3 separate regions of the Homo sapiens genome follow, and all the other regions are linked to region 1. The links come from fine-mapping of genetic effects on gene expression. A gene starts in region 1. Each other region holds a variant in brackets. All regions are shown on one strand. Distances are from middle to middle.

Evidence for each region. PIP is the estimated chance that this variant, and not a neighbour inherited with it, causes the effect.
Region 2: its variant is the best candidate, but not a certain one, in a credible set for the expression of USP45 in whole blood (TOPMed, PIP 0.76).
Region 3: its variant is the best candidate, but not a certain one, in a credible set for the expression of USP45 in blood mononuclear cells (TOPMed, PIP 0.63).

The regions. Positions count from the first base shown.
Region 1 is chr6:99,513,917-99,516,682 of GRCh38, forward strand. USP45 (ubiquitin specific peptidase 45) reads right to left here and starts at 1,507. Exons shown (of 18, transcript NM_001346022.3): 1 at 1,476-1,507. RefSeq lists enhancers at 515-1,422, 1,423-2,328 and silencers at 1,245-1,344, 1,395-1,764, 2,075-2,294.
Region 2 is chr6:99,572,278-99,575,043 of GRCh38, forward strand. It overlaps the pseudogene TSTD3. Among named protein-coding and RNA genes, the nearest start is that of CCNC, 5.0 kb to the left of the region's middle. The variant C/T (reference allele first, on the strand shown) is at 1,403.
Region 3 is chr6:99,445,102-99,447,867 of GRCh38, forward strand. USP45 (ubiquitin specific peptidase 45) reads right to left here. Exons shown (of 18, transcript NM_001346022.3): 14 at 696-1,362. Among named protein-coding and RNA genes, the nearest start is that of PNISR, 21 kb to the left of the region's middle. The variant CAAAGA/C (reference allele first, on the strand shown) is at 1,383.

The sequences.
Region 1 (2,766 bases):
TGGGGTGAGGAATGAGAAATTGCTTAATGGACACAATGTACATTATTCAGGTGATGGTTACACTAAAAGCCCAGTACCACTAGGAAATATATCCTCGTAAAAAAACGGCACTTATATCCCTTACCTTTATACAAATTTACAAAACTGTGGCTGAGGATCTCCGTGATCTCCCCCACATTTAGAGCTTTGATAGGATGCACGGGACTCAACATATAGTTGAATTCATGGCTGACATTTATTACACAATGCAGTATGGATATAAAGGCTCATCATAATAGAAAAAGACACAAGCGGAGTCTGGAGGAATCACGTGTAGGCTCCTTATGCGGTCTCCCTCCCAAGAGGGGTCAAACAAAACACATCCTTCCTCCATCAGTGAAAATGCAGCAGTTTCCGCGCAGGGAAGCCCATTAAAGACTTGGTGTCCCGGATTTTTACAGAAGCTGGTAATTTCGGCATAAAACATACTGTTCAGCACAAACCCAAAAATCTAAGTTCCCAGATGCCAAACAAGCACCAACATTGCAAGCAGTCCTTTCTAAGGATAGCAGTCTTAAGGCCTGCTATGTTAACTCTTTTTAGCACAAATATGTTCTGGCCATTTTTCTCATGCGGTTTTCCAAACAATAAACTTTACAGTTTTCAAGTCACCATCACTTAACACTTGTCTTTTCTCTAAAGTAGGATGTGCAACTAAGTTGTTTAGAAAGCTTTGTTTTTAAACAGGCTATGCAAAAAGCCCATATCCTTAAGAAAAAAAAATCCTTTTTTCCTACTCTTGGGCAATTATTTATGGGGGTTGGAAAGAGAAGAAAAGGTCACTATCTCCTTTTATATACCAAGCTCAAAAAGATGAGCAGCACTTATGGTTTTGCTGTGTATCACGCTCAGTTCTAAGCACTTCACAAATATTAACCCACGCAACCCTCACAACCACCTTAGGAGATAAGTTGCTATTATTTTCCGCATTTTACACTTGAAACTGAGAAAGAGAAGTGAAGTGACTTGCAGAGGTCCCAAAGCCAGTAAGCGGTGGATGGAGATGCGGACCCAAGCAGTCCGGCCCCGGAGCTCCTAATACACGACGCTTCCAGAAAAGTCATTAGACAGGCTTCCTCCGGTCACCAACACACACACACCCCGAGGATGTGAAGAGAAATGCGCCGCGATGAGGCGGACGGAAAGGTGTGGGGCCGCCGCGCGCCCAGGTCACCAGGGGACTCGGGCCCCTCCCAGGCCAGCCCCGACGCCCAGGGCTTCTCCCGCAGCCGCATGGACCCGGAGCCGGCAGAGCGGCGCTCACACGGCCCTCGGTGACCGCCCGGCGCCCCCAGGGATCAGGAAGCCGAGTGGGGTGGGGAGCCTCTCTTCCAGCCTCGCCCACCCACAAGGGGGTCAAGGTCGCCGAAGCGAAGACCGAGAAACTGCGGCGACCATACCGCCGCTGCGACCAAAGCGCCGCGTTCTCAACTCACCCCGCCGGGCCGGGCCGCAGCGTCTACAACCTGGGGAGACTGCGCCTGCGCGCTCGTCCCGCTCCCGGCAGAGGTGGGGCCTCGTTCGCCCGCCCCCAGCCAGGACCGGGAGGGTTCCAGGCGGCGCGCCCGGGGCCCGGGAGCGCGGGGAGGGGTGAAAGGGCGGGGCCGGCTTGCGTGGCGCCTGCGTTCTGCGTGTCCGCAGAGCCCGGAGAGTCCCTGATAATCTAAGACTCATAGCCACCGACTAGCAATTTGTTAGGATCCTGGGCCAGCGTGCGCACCTCGGATGTTGCAGGAGTCCGGCTTAAGTCCCACTTGTTGCTGGGCACCTTCTGAAACAGCCTCCGATTTCCCTCCGTTACCCTCCTCTGAACTCTTTTTTTTTTTTTTTTTTTTTTGAGACGGAGTCTCGCTCTGTCGCCCAGGCTGCAGTGCAATGGCAAGATCTCGGCTCACTGCAACCTCCGCCTACCGGGTTCACGCCATTCTACTGCCTTAGCCTCCCGAGTAGCTGGGACTACAGGCGCCCGCCATCACGCCCGGCTAATTTTTTGTATTTTGTTTAGTAGAGACGGGGTTTCACCGTGTTAGCCAGGATGGTCTCGATCTCCTGACCTTGTGATCCGCCCGCCCCGGCCTCCCAAAGTGCTGGGATCACAGGCTTGAGCCACCGCGCCCGGCTCCGCCCCCACACCCCCGCCGCCCCCTGAACTCTTAAAGTCACATCTAACATTCGTCATATATTATTGTGGTTTTTCCCCCATTGCTGTTGTCTTACCTATCCTTCTCTCTTCCTAGCTAGATAGTACATTTCTTGAAATACACCTATACCTCCTCAAAGCCCGGTTATCTGTTGAAGTGGCCAGCACATTGCATGTTTAGTAAAAGTAGTTGGTTTGAAAATATTTTGTTTCAATCATGGATATTGCAAATGCCAACACTGGTTATGGATAGGTTCTAAAAGTCTCCTGATCTTTCACAACTCTTCAGCCAAGGGACAAATGTGGCTTTAAGGATAAGAGCATTGGCGTAGAAATCAGAAGATACGAGAGTTAAAATTGCAAACACTAAATTTTTCTTTAAAAACTCTTCTAACAGTATTTACATGTGGAGAACTTGGCAAAGAAGGTTGATATTTGCTTATATCGTACTTAACAAGGACCATTCATTTAACAAACATAATTGAGCACAGATATGCCAGTTGCTGTTACAGGTATAGAGGTACACTATCATTTTGGGGTTAGGATAATTTTTTTCCCTAGGGAAAAAGAAAATATTCCTCAAATAA
Region 2 (2,766 bases), 58 kb after region 1:
CTGTCACCCAGGTTGGAGTGCAATGGCTTCAGGCGATTCTCCTGCCTTAGCCTCCCAAGTAGCTGGGATTACAGGTGCCTGCCACCATGCCCAGATAATTTTTTTTTTTTTTTTTTTTTTTTGGATTTTTAGTAGAGATGGGGTTTCACCATGTTGGTCAGGCTGGTCACAAACTCCTGACCTCAGTTAATCCACCCACCTCAGCCTCCCAAAGTGCTGGGATTATAGGCATGAGCCACCGTGCCCCGCAATTTTGTTTTATACCTAATTCTGCACTCTTCTTCCTACAAAACAGTGAGATCCTTCATCTTTGTATAAATCTCTTATAGAATTTGGGGGATGTGCTTTGATATAACATTACGGATACAAAATTATGTTGAAAAGTGAGTACTACATTTAGAATGCAAAAAGAGCCACAACAACTTACTAGAGCTGTGGAAATTCAGGTCCTTTCCTTCTGTGAACTCTTTTAGGCAATTTACCACAAGTGCTACATAGAACCTCTTCCTGTTTGTGACCTGGTTTCTGCTTCCACCAAATGCCCAGCAGCTCCCAGTGCTCATGGGGGCTGTGCAAGTGACAGGCCTGGAGCTTAGGCTTCCTTAGTTTCAGAGTAAATTGCTTTTGAGGTCATTCTATAAATGTAGGTTGAATTAAATTGACTTGAACCAAAAGCTAACTTCATTTAAGGATATCTCTAGTGGAATAGATAAATTTACAAAAGCTGTTAAAATACATAGATATCCCAGCTTACCTGGATGCAAAAAGATCATGAGCTATCTAGCAGATTTGCCTTTTTTCGCTGATGATTTTTTAAACTTTTCTTTATAATTTTAGGAGTATTGTTTTTCAGACCTCACTACCCACTAATTTAAACTTGATGAAATAAATTAATGTTGTCCCTTCCAATTTTCAACTTACCTTGTGCTTTTCAAATGGGATGAGTTCAATAAATTCTTTTTAAAAAATTTTTTATTTTTCATTTTTGTGGATACATAGTAGGTGTGTATATTTATGGGGGTACATGAGCTATTTTGATACAGGCATGCAATGAGTAATAATCACATCAGGGTAAATGGGTATCCATCATCTCAAGCATTTATCCTTTGTGTTACAAACAATCCAATTATACTCTTTTAGTATTTTAAAATGTTAATAAATTCTTGATGCTAGTGTTCAATCTCCTGTGACAAGAAAGCATTTATCCTTTTTCTTCTTACAGTGCTTTCTCCAGCAGCATGAATACTATTTCTGGTAAACTAGGAGCTAGAAGGTTAGTGGCTTTATCAAGCTCACTTAGTTAAATAGCGGCAAGAATACCTGGAATCCGATTCTTCTGATTCACAGTGCAATAACTTTTTTATCCAACTAGACAGCTTCAACAGAACTACTATGATGAAAC[C/T]GCTATAAGCACATTATTCCAAGTTTGTAGTACAAGTTTTTCTTCTCAAACACAATTATTGGAGATAATCCTCTCATTTTTAATTAAATTATTATCATAATTACTTTGCTTTGTTATTAATAGTCCTTATTGTGAAAAACATCCTCTTCTTTATGTAGTCATCCCCTGTACCTCCCTTTATTTTTGTTCTGGTATACCTGTATTTGTTGAAGATGAATACACGTCTAAATTATGGAAAAGTGTCTTTGTTTTGTGCTATAAGAGAATAGCACAGACTGGGTAATTTATAATTGTCAACCAAGATAACAGAGAGAGGCTCTCTAAAAGAAAATGATCTTTATTTAGGAATAGGGCATTGCAATAGGAGTATGTGCACCCTTAGTAAACTACATGGGTATTTAGGGAGGTGAAGGAACACAAAGGGTTTTAAAGAAAAAATGAAAAGGATTACATAATTGTTTTGAGATAAGTTAGCCATGGCTACAAAGATCAATTACAAAGGTGACACCAGTCCAAGATTAGATAGGCAGTTGCTGGGCAGATATCCTCACAGAAATACTGTTTTTCGTGCAAGGTTGCTGTGGTGTTTGTGCAATGTTATGGTTTTTGCAGCATCTTTTGTGATAGTTTTTGTTACCAGGCATTTATTTGTGAGAACCCTTCCTTCATGGCCCTTTGAGGCTCTATTTTTTATTTTTGTTTTTTAACACAAGTGACTCCATTTTGATCTTGACAACTTTCACATAATGAACAGAAATGTATTAGCTCATGGGTTCTTGAGGCTGGGAAGTCCAAGATTGAGGGGCTGGCATCTGGTGAAGGCCTTCTTGCTACATCATCCCATGGCAGAAGGACAAAGAGAAGGTGAGAGAGAGAGAGAAAGAGAGAGAGAGAGCAAGACGGGGCCAAACTCATCATTTTATAAGGAACCCATTCCCAGGATAACAGCATTAATCCATTCATGAAGGCAGAGGCCTCATAGCCTAATCACTTCTCATTAGGCTCCACCTCTCAACATCATGACATTGGAGATCAAGTTTTCAACATGTAAACTCTGAGGGCATATTCAAACTGTAGTATAAAGTGTATTAGTTAAGAACTCAGTCTCTAGACTGATGAGGTTCAAATAATAGCTCTGCTGCTTACCAGTTGTCTAACCCTGGTCATCTACTTAGTCACTCTGAGTCTCAGTTTCTTCATCTGTAAAACAGGGATAATTATTGGTAAGTCATAGGGTTGTGGTGAAGTTTAAATGAACTTAAATGAAATTAGAGCAGTGCCTGATACATAGTAAAAGCTCAATAACTGTTAGCTTTTTTTAAATTTAGAACAAATCTGGACTCTATAACATGGACTATAAAGAA
Region 3 (2,766 bases), 69 kb before region 1:
AAATTTATCTTACGTTGAGTTTACAACAGATTGATAGGATCTGTGAAACACATTAGCTTTATCATTTATCTTACCAGTGATACAATTAGAAGTTTTAGGGAGGCCAGGCATGGTGGCTCACACCTGTAATCTCAGCACTTTGGGAGGCCAAGGCGGGTGGATCATGAGGTCAGGCATTCAAGACCAGCCTGGCCAAGATGGTGAAACCCCATCTCTACTAAAAATACAAAAATTAGCTGGGCATGGTGGTGGGCGCCTGTAATCTCAGCTACTCAGGAGGCTGAGGCAGAATAATCGCTTGAACTCAGGAGGTGGAGGTTGCAGTGAGCCGAGATCGCGCCACTGTACTCCAGCCTGGGCAACAGAGTGAGACTCCATCTCCAAAAAAAAAAAAAAAAGTTGTAGGGATATTTCTTCTGGATAGATTTCAGATAGGTAGTTCCCTCAAATAAGATTATATGGGTTTGCATTTTCAAGGCAGAGTTGTATACTTCCTGCTCTTTATTTAAATAAAAAAACTTGAAAATCTGTTCTGCCCAGTATTGTAAGCGCTCAGGTACAAATATGAATGAAACAATCTCTGCCTAAGTAACACAAGTATAGGGACAAGATTCTCAGTAAAATTCTCAGTGAAATTTGTAACTCACTAGACACTATCAGGAGATCAATAATTATGTAATTAAAAAAATAATTACCTGCAAAACTGGTTTCTTCTTGGTACTTCTGTTTGTTTTTAGTACAATTCTCACATAGAAGCTTATTATTCCCCATTAGTAATTCCATAGATGTAAACTGGTAGAGACAGGACTGAATTGAACATTCTTTAGAAGTAGTTATATAGCTCTGAGAAAGGGTCTGAAAAGCATTTTGGGGACTATAAGACCTCAAATGCTTCCCCTCTAAAAAACATAAATTATTTGAAATATTTAGTGGCTGATTTTCTCTGTCAAAATCTTGATCTCCAGTTACAGTGCTGCTCAAACGAAGTTCAGAAATAGCTTCTGCCATTTCCTTATCACCACTGTCAGTCTCCTTGGTGTACAGCAGTTTACCTGCTGACAGAGGGTAAAGGGGTCCATCTGGCTGCACACCGGATCCACTACTGGATCTGAACAGCCCAGTCTGCTTTGAAGCACTTTCAGATTCTGAAGGCTCACTGTCAGCATCAACATTGCTTTCAGAATGGCTGGCTTCTTTTTCACTGTCATCAGTAGGGCTTTCATTCAGACGTGACTCAGAATTCATGAGGCTGGCAAACATTAAAGAATCCCCATTCATTTCAAGGTTTTCATTTTTCTGGTATGTGACAGTTTCTCCAGATGACAATTTTCTAATACATTTTCGGTCATGAATTAGTTGACTCTGTAAGTTGACAGTGTTTT[CAAAGA/C]AAAGAGTCTTGTAACCTCATTGAAAATAAATGCCAATAATTCTTAAACATATCATAGTTATTAAATACCATTTCTCTCAGATCCATTTCCTAAGCCTACTGAAACTAAGATCACTAGAAGATATACTAAAAAATAGTTCTATTTTAAAAGTAAATCTTCACACAAGAAACTAACAACAGTGTAACAGAGGCTATTTGTGGGGAAGGAAATAGGACTTTTGTAGAACAGGGCTATGAGGGAGACTTTTTTCTTTAAAAGAAAAATCTCTTTTAGAGACAGCATCTTGCTCTGTTGCCCAGGCTAGAGTGCAGTGGCACAATCACAGCTCACCGCAGCCTCAAACTCTCGGACTCAAGTGATCCTCCCACCTCAGCCTCCCATGTAGTTACTACTACAAGTATGTACCACCATACCTGGCTAATTTTTTAATTTTTTGTAGAGATAAAGTCTCGCCATGTTGCTTAGGCTGGTCTTGAACTCCTGACCTCAAGCAATCCTCCCACCTTGGCTTCCCAAAGGAGACTTTTCAGTTACTGTATAAGCCTTTCCATACTTGTTCATTTTTAAACACTGAAAATGTATCTGTTTTTTAAACAAATTAAAAAGTAACAAAAGTAAACTATAAACTATTATGACACAGTGTTGCTTGGTTGCCATAGATCTGGAAGAAAATTACGGGAAAAAAATAACCTAAGTTTGGGAAGGGGGGAATCAACTAATTAAAAATTTTAAGCTACCTGAAATGTTTCACTAAAGTTTCCACACAGCTGATGGCTTGAAGTACATTTTTCTTTTCCTATACCTTGGCTGAAGGGTCAAGACAAAAAATAAAGAAAAGACTATCATGAGTAATTGATACTCAGTTTTAGTTATTCAGGGGAAGAAGAGTAAGTTATAAAAAGTGTCTTGCCTCAATTTTTTTTATCTGCAAAATCAGGAAAAATAACATTAGCCAACAAGTTCCACTCCGCTGAATTTATATAGTACTTTTTTTTGGAAACAAACTTTCCTATTATACATATAATACTAACAGTTGGTAAACAAAGCGGCCGGCCAGGAAGCTCGAACTGGGTGGAGCCCACCACAGCTCAAGGAGGCCTGCCTGCCTCTGTAGACTCCACCTCTGGGGTCAGGGCACAGCCCAACAAAAGGCAGCAGAAACCCCTGCAGACTTGAATGTCCCTGTCTGACAGCTTTGAAGAGAGTAGTGGTTCTCGCAGCACAGAGTTTGAGATCTGAGAACGGACAGACTGCCTCCTCAAGTGGGTCCCTGACCTCCGAGTAGCCTAACTGGGAGGCACCCCCCAGTAGGGGCACACTGACACCTCACACGGCCGGGTACCCATCTGAGACAAAGCTTCCAGAGGAACGATCAGGT